Homo sapiens: one gene and its partners. The protein of the gene in region 3 purifies or fractionates together with the protein of the main gene of each other region. This does not show direct contact. Each region holds a gene or a part of one and is shown on either strand. Other genes may lie near its edges. The genes, in order: MGP, SNX18 and BMP2.

The links.
Region 1: the proteins of BMP2 (region 3) and MGP purify together in Homo sapiens (affinity purification with western blotting, with the first as the bait; one study listed by BioGRID). This does not show direct contact.
Region 2: the proteins of BMP2 (region 3) and SNX18 purify together in Homo sapiens (affinity purification with mass spectrometry; one large-scale study listed by BioGRID and IntAct). This does not show direct contact.

What each region holds. Positions count from the first base shown.
Region 1 is NC_000012.12:14,882,904-14,887,095, reverse strand, and holds the start of MGP (matrix Gla protein isoform 2 preproprotein), read left to right. Parts: upstream 1-1,241; 5' UTR 1,242-1,304; coding exon 1,305-1,365; intron 1,366-2,208; coding exon of another isoform or gene 2,209-2,283; intron 2,284-2,850; coding exon 2,851-2,883; intron 2,884-4,048; coding exon 4,049-4,124; intron 4,125-4,192. UniProt on the Homo sapiens protein: Associates with the organic matrix of bone and cartilage. Thought to act as an inhibitor of bone formation.
Region 2 is NC_000005.10:54,544,408-54,547,228, forward strand, and holds the end of SNX18 (sorting nexin-18), read left to right. Parts: 3' UTR 1-2,179; downstream 2,180-2,821.
Region 3 is NC_000020.11:6,770,567-6,774,223, forward strand, and holds part of BMP2 (bone morphogenetic protein 2 preproprotein), read left to right. Parts: intron 1-3,657. UniProt on the Homo sapiens protein: Growth factor of the TGF-beta superfamily that plays essential roles in many developmental processes, including cardiogenesis, neurogenesis, and osteogenesis. Induces cartilage and bone formation.

The DNA of each region.
Region 1 (4,192 bases), on a different chromosome or scaffold from region 3:
CCCCCAACCCAGCCCTATTGCTGTTCCAGCTCAAGAGTCAGAGGTCCCGAAGCTGTAGCTCTTCTACAATCTGCTGCTCTGTGACTTCAAGTCTGTTGTCTGCAAAGAAAACTATTGGGTTCCCAAGCAAGAGAGGCACATCTGGTAGGACAGATTTTGTGATTGCAAAAGAAGGGGGAAAAAAAGAAAGAAAGAAAAGACCTCTCTATACAAGATAACCAGAGGCATCAAACTGAAATCCTCCTGTGGAAAATAAGCTAGTACTTCTGGGCCTGATGGTGTAGTGAAAACCTGTGCTTGAGGATACATTACAGTGAAAGAGCAAAGTGAATAGTAAGTAGCTATTACTTACCTCCTTAGGGAGGTGTGTTGTTTGTCTGTACATCCCCCACAGCACCTAGCACAGTACCTTGCATCTCACCTGCCACTCACTAAAAAGTCTATCAAGTTAGTTAATTATCGAGACAACGCCCTCAGAAATGAGAGAACAGTACCCTCTTATCCTTGCTGCACTTTCCAGCACTGATACGCTGCCTAAAAGAGGACTAGGGCACAGGTTTGAATTAATGTCACAAAACTGGATGGGCAAGTTACAACGGTGTTGATTAAGGAAACAGAACTCATGGTGCACCGGATATCTCCATCCTGATGAACCCTTGGAAAAATGCCAAAGATGCATATCCCCAGGCAAATGCCTGATTAGTCTGGGATTGATAGATTGGTCTAGGATTCAGCCCTACTGGGAAGATGTCTAAATTATAATCAGTGTAGAAAGCGAAGTTCTCCTAGAAGAAGAGGCAAAGGTTAAAAAGAAGAAAAGAAAAGAAAGTGAAGTCCTTTCTCCCCCAAAACCTCTCATCAATCAATCAGGGTAACAAACAGAACACTAGGGCTCTGTCTGTGGACCAAACCCAAAAGCCCTGCGGTCAGGGCCAGGAGGGTAGATCATGTGTTTGTGGCAACTTCCTCTGTGGGCTTTTGCCCAGGTCTGTCCCCAAGCATACGATGGCCAAAACTTCTGCACCAGAGCAGCATCCTGTGTAACACAGTCAGGTCCAGCAGTTAGGGAAAACTGCCCACTCAGAGTAGATAATATCTGGAAGGAATGACTGTTTGGGAAAAGTTCCAATGCTAGTTCAGTGCCAACCCTTCCCCACCTTCTCCAGCTCTCTCCCACTGGTTCCTCCCCTCTCAACTGCTCTGGTTCTTATAAAAACCTCACAGCCTTCCACTAACATCCCGTAGGAGCCTCTCTCCCTACTGCTGCTACACAAGACCCTGAGACTGACCTGCAGGACGAAACCATGAAGAGCCTGATCCTTCTTGCCATCCTGGCCGCCTTAGCGGTAGTAACTTTGTGTTATGGTGAGAAACTTTTCTCCCATTTCTCTGTGTTTACTTTTCTGCCTCTGACTTTGGCTTACTTCTATTTTTCCTCTCCCTCCTCCTCTTCTTCCCCCTTTCTCTGTTATAATCTTAAAGTACCATTACTTTCACATTTCCCAGTCTCCGCAGAAACTGATCTGTTCTATTAAGTCTTTTTTATATCCTAAATATCCAGAGTCTTATGCAACTTAACAGGCAAACCCGTTCAGTGGTAAGTCTCTGTATATCTAGAAACTCATATTTCAGAAAGAAGATACCAAATTCCCAGCCCCCTGCATCCTCATTTTTAAGGATATTTATTTAGACTTTGGTATCAATGGGTTAAGGGTATTGTTTAAACCACTTGCCTTTGAGAAAATCCATTTTTATGTGAAGTATTAAGTATAGCCCTTTCTAGGGACTGGACAATCTCATGAACTTACTATGTTTGTTCAGTTAATTAATTTTAAAATAAAGTTTTACATCAAAAGAATTTTAGAAAAGAATCATTTTCATAACTCCTGTTGTCAGAAAATAAATTTTGCCTGTTTTCTATATGTCATTAAATATACCTGCATTTGTTCAAAGCTTATAAAAGGAAATCTGAAGCAAAGTTATTTACTTATTTCAGTCTTTTGTTTCAATTACCTAGATATTTTCATTGTTTTAAAATTTAAATTACATTAACAACCATAAAGATTATGCTTCTCACTCTTGTATTCACAAATTTTCTGTATTAGAGGATTTGATTTCTTCACCTCCTTTTTAAGTTTTGAAGAAAATTCACTTGCTGGCAAATATTAATAGAAGCTTCTTATTCCAAAATTTATCTGCTGTGCTCAGGAGAGTGGCAGAAAGAAGAAAACTTCGGCTTTGATATCGTTTCAGTTCTCTCTCTGAACTGGCATCGTGCCCAGGGTGAGCTGTCAGCTGGAGCTAGTGGTTTCTGTGGCTGCCAATTTAACACAGGTTCTTAAGAGGCTTTCGGAACCCTCTTAGAAACCTGCCCTAGTAAGCCCAGCAGAGCAACTGCCCTGTAGTTCTCTTGCCTGGAGAAACCTGGCTGTCTTCTGGATCCTTCTTAATCCTCTTTGACCCTGTTCTCAAACAGGCTCTGAATAAATCAGAGAAGAAGGTTCTCTGGAGACTTCTGTACAGCACTTAAAGTGTCTTATTTTGCTTGTCTGAAGACGTCATAGCCCTTGGGAAATTTTAGCTGAAAATGGCCACTCCCTCCTTCAACATCAGAGAAACTAAAATATAGAGATATCCACAGCAAGGCCAGAGCTAGAGAAAAACCTCATAAATCCTAAATTCCTGAAATTTCTAATAACCACACTGCTAAATATATTCTTCATGTTTTTAGACTCTTTCCTCTTCTTCCATCCCTGTATTTAAACTATCACAGTGTCTAAATTGATAAATAATAACATAATGAATCATGGATAAATATTGATATAATGAATCTTTTTTTTTTAATTTCAGAATCACATGAAAGCATGGAATCTTATGAACTTAGTAAGTGAATATTTAACTTCTTTATTCAAATCCCTTGCATTAAAGAACCTCTTCTTATTTTTAAATAAACAAGATGGAAAGATATATAACAGGGAGGGAAAAGGGGGCCTCTTTTGGAAAACTAAAGTAAATTTTTAAATCTAATGACTATAAAAATTGCCAAAGGAGCAATTTTTTAAGTTTGAAGTAGTGCAATATGGGATTTAAGCTACAGGCGACATATTTAGAAGCCATAAAATCTCATTTGGAAATTTTAAATTGGCACCACGTCAACTGCACAGATGGAAAACGAGGAGTAATGACAAATGGTAAAGCACAGAGCTGGACGCCAAGTCAGCTGGGAGACCACAGGCGCCACGTTAAGCTGAGTGCTGTTTTGGTTTTTTTGTGTTTTTCTTTCTTGTTTTTTTTTTTGAGACAGTGTCTCACTCTGTCGCCCAGGCTAGAGTGCAGTGGTGTGATCTCGGCTCGCCGCAACCTCCACCTCCCAGGTTCAGGCAATTCTCATGCCTCAGCCTCCTGAGTAGCTGGGATTACAGGCCCATGACATCATGCCTGGCTAATTTTTGTATTTTTAGTAGAGATGGGGTTTCACCATGTTGTCCAGGCTGGTCTCGAACTCCTGGCCTCAAGTGATCCACCCACCACAGCCTCCCAAAGTGCCGGGATTACAGGCATGAGCCACCACACCCAGCCAGCTGATTGCTGTTGAATAGCTGGATTTATAAAGACTGAGCATAGGAGGAAATGGCACATCACTCTCATTTTTAATTTATTCATTATTTTTATAGTGTTTAAACTGTTCATGTATCGGCAATCTAGTTATGCTTCATAAATCCTCAGGACAGAGAATTTCTCCTCAAAAGGAATTTAAAATCTACCAAGTAGAAATACAGAAATTAAGAAAGGCAAAGTGATCGTCCAAACTCAAAACCAACAAAGCCTATATGACAAGTCTCTAAGACACATGGATTGATTACTGATTTCATTTGATCAGGAAGTTAATGAAATCTACTTTATACTCTCCTTTAATTTTTGCCAATCTCCGTTTATATGAGTTGCATAAGTTAAGGCACTTTCAAATATATTTGTGTCAAGGAATATTCACGGAAATATTTCCAGCTATGTGTCGCTAAAACTGCATTTATTTATTTTCTGTTCTAAGATCCCTTCATTAACAGGAGAAATGCAAATACCTTCATATCCCCTCAGCAGAGATGGAGAGCTAAAGTCCAAGAGAGGTCAGTAACAAAACTTCATGAGGAGTGGTCATTTTTCCCAGTGTAGATCACAGATCTGAATTGGAGTG
Region 2 (2,821 bases), on a different chromosome or scaffold from region 3:
TGAAAAAAAATGGATCTACACTGTTAACTGATTGAGACTCCACTGTGATTCACTTGTTTACTTAAAAACTTTTCAGGGATGTCTGTAAATTTCAGTGTTAATATGTCATGAAAAGTGGTGTGGATTGATCTAAGGAGGGACCAGAAATAATTTTTGCTATTCCAAATACTGAAGGAAAAAGATAATTGATTTATACTATGTTTTAAAAAAAAAAAAGGTATTGATGAGCCCCCCCCCCCCAGGACATTTAACCTTAAAATTTATTTTAAATGTATTCTTTTATTATTATAAGGGAAATACAGATGGCTGATAAATACCAAAAAGATTCAAAAGCAGCTTAATTTAAAAAGCACAAAGAGATTCTGGCTTACAGTGCCCCAATCTCAATGTTTTTATAGTTGCTGAGCTAACTAATGTGATTATTGAGTTTACAGATTTAAAAATTGTCACTGTTAGAGTATCTACTGTTTTTATGAAGTCAAACTTATGCTGCCTCAGAAATCCCTGGGTACTGAAATGGTAACATGGAAGTGAAGAGGTCACTTTGAAATATTGGTGAGTCACAAAGATTAAAGAAAAGGATCAGTTTGCAGATACTCAGAAAAGGTTATTGAAATAATTACTGAACAGCACATTTTCTCTCTAAAAAGTAGTTTCATATGGGTTGTATTTTTAAGATCAGATTATCATTTTGATATTTGGTCAAAATTTTGTACCTTAGGTTACTTAGAGCCAGATTTAACATCATGAACATTATGTGGCTTTGTCTTTACTACAGATATGTGGAACTGTAACCAAATATGTTGTCTCTAAAACTTGTTGATTGCAAAATACAGTTCTATAAACAAAACCCATATGTATATATAAATGTTAATTTTGCGGAAGTCTGGAAATTATAACTATAGCATTTAAGTTTGAGTCTGTATTGGACAAATAAGCACCATGCTTTTCAAATGATTTAAAAATTACTTTTATTTGCCTCTTTATTTTGATGGTGGTTGGATTTTTTTTTTTTTAATAGTAAAATCACTAAACTTGTGCAATGGTAGCATGGAAATTATCTGAGGTATATTGTATGATTGTACTTTAGCCAGGGTGGACATAGCTTAAATTATAAAAACTAAAGATGAAAGTACAAGGAAGTATAAGTTATACTTATGTAAGTATAAATTCATGCTGCCTACTTCTAAGAGAAATTTCATTCTTCATAACCACATAACATTATAATGCCACTGATTCATACGGGATTTACATTAATTCTATGGGGGAGGACACTAGAATTATTAGTGTTCATTTTCATCTAAGATCTTTATTCTCTAACGTTCTTGGTCCTATTGAAACATTGCAGTATGCAAAACTACTGCAATGTTAAACCCAAGAGAAAAGCCATTATCATGTGTATGCTGGTCATCATGATCAGTGTGGTACAATTTTTAAAAATAAACTATCATGCCCTTCATGCCATTATTTGTCTTTATTTCTATGATTTATAATCCTGATATGTGATGTGTTTGTAACACAGGGTGTGCACTTGAGCCTGGTTTTACTGTTTTTATTAGACAGAGTTGTTTATATGCTGTAACTGTAACGCAGCGAGACTGGTTCTACAGCCATGTGTCGTAATCTTGTTCCCCGTCCAAGCTGTTGTATCTGAAGGTACCCAGTTTGCACCCAGGATGAGGGAACGCATTCAAAAGTGAAATGTAAAGCCAGTGCACGAATATTATAGTAATTGAGATTTTCCCAGGCTTCACTGATACAGTTGTTTTGCATTTATTCACAATAATACAGCAGATTCTTAAATGCCGATTTTTAATTGTCTTAAATTTTGCTGCTGTTCTCATAATTAAGGACTTGAAAAATGTTTTAGTCTGTCAAGTATGTAAAGTTTGTGTAAAAACTTTTAAATGTCATTCTTAAGTTCATTGCCATAGCCATTTTCCATTTATGTCTTCATTTTCCAAAAATCAAATGCCATGTCTGATACCTTTAAGTCCATAAGCATTCAATTTTCTCATTTCCACCTTCATCTTTGGTTAACAGAATAAGTAAAACAGGGTATTATTTATTTGTAGTCTAGAAATGTTGAATATTGTTTTATTTCCTTCAAAATGTTATGATTAGTGCAGATCAGCCATGTTTATCTTTTTAAAAAATAAACAGGTTGCTTTATTTCTTAGCTTCAATGGAATATAATTATTTTTTCTCCACTCATCAAGGAGGCATTTATTTAATGTGAAGAATTACACAGAAAAATAGAAGAGCATGTTCTGTCTTGAGCTTCATCTGCAGTTACCATAGAAATTATTCATCAAACACTGTAGCTAATTTGATTAATTTAAAACCATCATCATTCAGATAGTCCCATGGAGTATCTGCTTCCATTAGTGACATCAGGAATTAAGCACATAGCAGTAAGTTGTGAGTGAGAGGTTTTGAAATAATAGCTCCCATGAGTCCAATACCTGAGACAGAAGCAGGTGCTTAAGTAAAGTACTTGACATACTGTCTGTTGGTTGCCATAAATAGGCGAACTCCAACACACATAAGCCAAAATATAATAGCTACGGGACCTGGCATATCTTGCAAGGGGCCAAAGTCCCATTTGGCAAAGCTTGCCCTCTTTGTGGGGCTTTGTAGTCTTGTATCTGCTTATCTTTACAGATTTGTTTTACATATATGTTTTTTCTCCTGGCCTGCCTTTCTTAGCATCTTGTAATGTCTAGAATGGCCTAGCCATCTTTTACTTCACAAATATACTTGGACCAGTGATGGACATCTGGACAAATCACCTACGGTTTGGGGAGGCTGTGAGAAGGAG
Region 3 (3,657 bases):
CGGGGCACCAGCGGACGTTTCCACTCTTGCTTCTGTACTATCGTTTCTGAATCTGATTTTAACTCACTGCTTGTGTGGTGGGGGAGCCAGGGATTCCCCTTTAGTAACTCCGCACCCTCTTCCTGGCTTGCAGCCAGAAGAGCTACTCCTCCTGGAAGAATTGGAGAGAAATCAAGTGATGGGGAAGATGAGGGCAAAAGGCATGCCTCTAGTCAGCTAAACGTGCAAGAATTCCACAGAGGGAAAAGGAGAAAAAGGGAGGCAGATTGAGATTTCTTTAAGTCTGTTTGGAAGCTTTTGCTCTATAAATCTGCCGCTTAAGCCAGGGTTTTAGGGTAGACAGAGCCAAGGGCAGAGTTTTCAGAGATAGTATTGAAAAATCAAAGCCCAGGGCCCCAAAGTCTTTCTAATTTATAGTTGATCTGGGCCTGGTTTGGAAGATTTTGAATCCCAATCTAATCCCCGTGGGAGATCAATACTACAATCAATCTTATTGTTTCCACAATGACTTTCTTGTCCTGTGCTTAAATCTGAGATAGGCTCTGAGTAGAGACAAGGCAAGCCTTCAGATAAAAGCGTTTGTAGCAGCTGCCTGTTTTTTTTTCATGTGCACCGAAATGTGGATTTTTTTTTCTTTTATGATACTACATGTGGTTTTTCTAAGGTGGGATATTTCTGCTTGTTTCATCAGAAGGGCATTTAGTGGACTGGAAATGTCTTACAGCAGCTATTGAGGTCTGCTGTACCTAAGTTCTTAGAGCAATTAGTCAAAAATATGTTCCACTTCAATTCTTTTTCTACACTTTTAAATGCTTCTTTGGCTTAATACATTTAAAATAGAGCATGGGTTTCTTCAATTCCTAGAAAAGAGTACAAAAGTGTATATCACAGAGCAACCACTTGGCAGATATTTGGGGAGTTGGGAGTGAAGTTCTCTTTCTTGCCTTTCCCTGCTTAGGTGGTAAATTTCAAGTGGGAAATTTACACTGATAATAGACTAATGGGAAATGGCACTTCCAGATGTTTTCTCCCAGTGTGAAGGGTGACTTATACTTGTGAGAGTATTTGTTGGTAATGGGAATAAGTCCCAAAGGCAAGCCACATAGCAGAAGATACGTTCTCATTGAGGCAGCTACACATTACGACGGGGACACTGAATTGATCATCAGTTCATTTACAAGCACATTTCTAAGTGAGGTGCTCTCTGCTAGCAGAAATCAGATTTGAAAGGCAGTAAGATCTCACTCCACTCTTTCAGAATTCATCCAATGAAAGCAGAAATCACCTGTTGTCATATGTAAAATTTGTGTGTATGTGTACATTCTGCCATCTTAACCCTGAAATGATTATAGATCCAGCTAATCATTCCCAGGTAATGCTGATTAGAATACTTTTTTTTTTGTATAGGAATGTAATAAGAACAACTGTTTTAGACACCTCTTCTGGAAATTTAGCATGGAAGCTCTCAACTTTATTTTTAAGGCCTGGAAGATGCTGTGTCTCTGTTACAACTTAAAAGGAAGATCATTTAAGTTAGTTAACACCTAAAACATTCCATTGTGTGAGGATTTTATCAGTGATGTCTGCATATTCTCATCATTCATCTAGAAGTGGTTTGATCAGAACTAAACAGGCTACACGTTATTCAACTGTGTTATTTTAACTTAAAAAGCATGCTTGAGTTTATAAAATCAGAATTTATATCTTTGTGAGTGTAAATGTTACCTGAGAAACAGTACAGAAGTGACCAACTTGATTAAAATCAACTTGTAATAACTTCAGGTCTTAATGCAGTTAGATAATGGAGAAAAGCTATGTAATTTTGCCCCAAATTTCAACTAATCCATTTCTTGTCTCATTATGACTAATATATCATCCTTAATCTGGATGGATATAGCACTTTTTTCAAGACTAATCATTGTTGTATACACCCAGGATTTGCTTTTGATAAACATCCTTGTGCCATGCATGCCACGAAAAAAGTTTTTGGTAAACCATGTGATGAAGGTTGCTGGCTCAAGAACAGAATTTAGTTTCTACAGCATTAATGAGCATTTATTTGAAAAAAGACCATAAAGACCCAATCATAAGAATTACCTGTTGGGTTTTCTTTGTAGGTGTGATCGAATGGTTTGGTGGAATTACTCGACGAGATATCATGATAGCATTCTTTCAACCAATATGAGTATAATGCGACCATATCATAGGGGATCTGAGACAGAATTATCAGTTGTATTTTTCCTATTGAATTTTGTCTAGTCCTTTCTCCAGTGGCTTTTATTTGGGAGAATATCAGCTTTGCTAAAATGTTATTGTTTTCAAGATCATTAAAAAGTGCTTCAGCTACATAGACCTTTGGAAACTGCCATTGAACATAGAAAAGTCAGTTCTGCAAGTGGAAAGAGTGTTTTGTGTATTGCTGTAGTTGGAAACACATTGAAACTGGTTGACTTCACTGGCCCTCCAAAAAGTCTTTATGCTTTTTTGTCAGATGGGAGAGAGAAAGACCAGGTGCTTCTTGTTCTCCTCACTCTGAAGGACACAGTCTTCTTTCTACATGAAATAACTGGATTATTTGCCTCTGTGACTGAAGCTTTCAAATAGAGATTAACCCTCTTTCCACAAATATAATTATTATGAAAATATCCATATAATAGAAAAGTTCAAGAAATAACTATTGCCCTGCATTAGAGACTTTGTGGCACAAATTCCCCCGTGCAAACAACAGATTTGGACACATAGATCCACCAAAACCAATACTTACCTGGTATGGTTCCCTAGTGGCCCCAGGTATTTCATTGTCATTACAGAGGCCACATTAAGTAGGAAAATTACTCTATTTGGAAATGGTTGTTGAGATTGAGGCTTTGGTGTCCAGTGATACTTCCTTGGCACTGACATTTTCCGTTCCACCTGTTTTTTAGTGGTTCCCCTAAATTTCTCTTAATCCCTTTGCAGTGAACTATTTTGCGTTCTTAGACTTGCTCTTTGTGTATTTTCACTGAGACAATAAGAGAATATTTCATCATTCCGAAGGTGTTGGTGTTAAGGGTGGGCAGAGGCCAAATCAGGGTTGTTGATGACAACCATGCTCTCTATTCCTTTATTTGCCATTCCCTTGTTGTATTTTTTTTAAAATGGAATGTTTTTAACCTTTTGTATTTGATATTTTTTTTCTCCTTGATCAGTTGTCTGTTATTTTATTATCTGGAAAATCTTATATTATACTCAGCCTCTTTCATTTTGTGTTAGGGCAGTGACTTCCAGCCTTACTGATTGCCAGCATATCCCCAGGTTTTGTTGTTGTTGTTGTTGTTTTACTGGAGATTTTTTAGCCCAAAGTGTGTTTTAAAATCCTCGAAGCATAACGGTAACTTACTTTTTTGATAAAACTTACCATACTTTATTTAGAACAAAAGGGCAGCCACAAAATAGCAGTGGCTCCTTATAAAATAGACACATTCCAGTGGGCCCCGTCACTTTTCTGCTCATTTCTGTCTGTTCTGTCCATCATACCTAAGTCATATATTTCTGTTCATTTAGTTGGGACAGAACTCACCCAATGTTATCATTGTACTAAATATAAATGTGCCCCTAATGGTTTTGACTTTTGCTTAAGTTTTTGAGTCCTCATGTATGTTAGGTAGTGCCATCTAG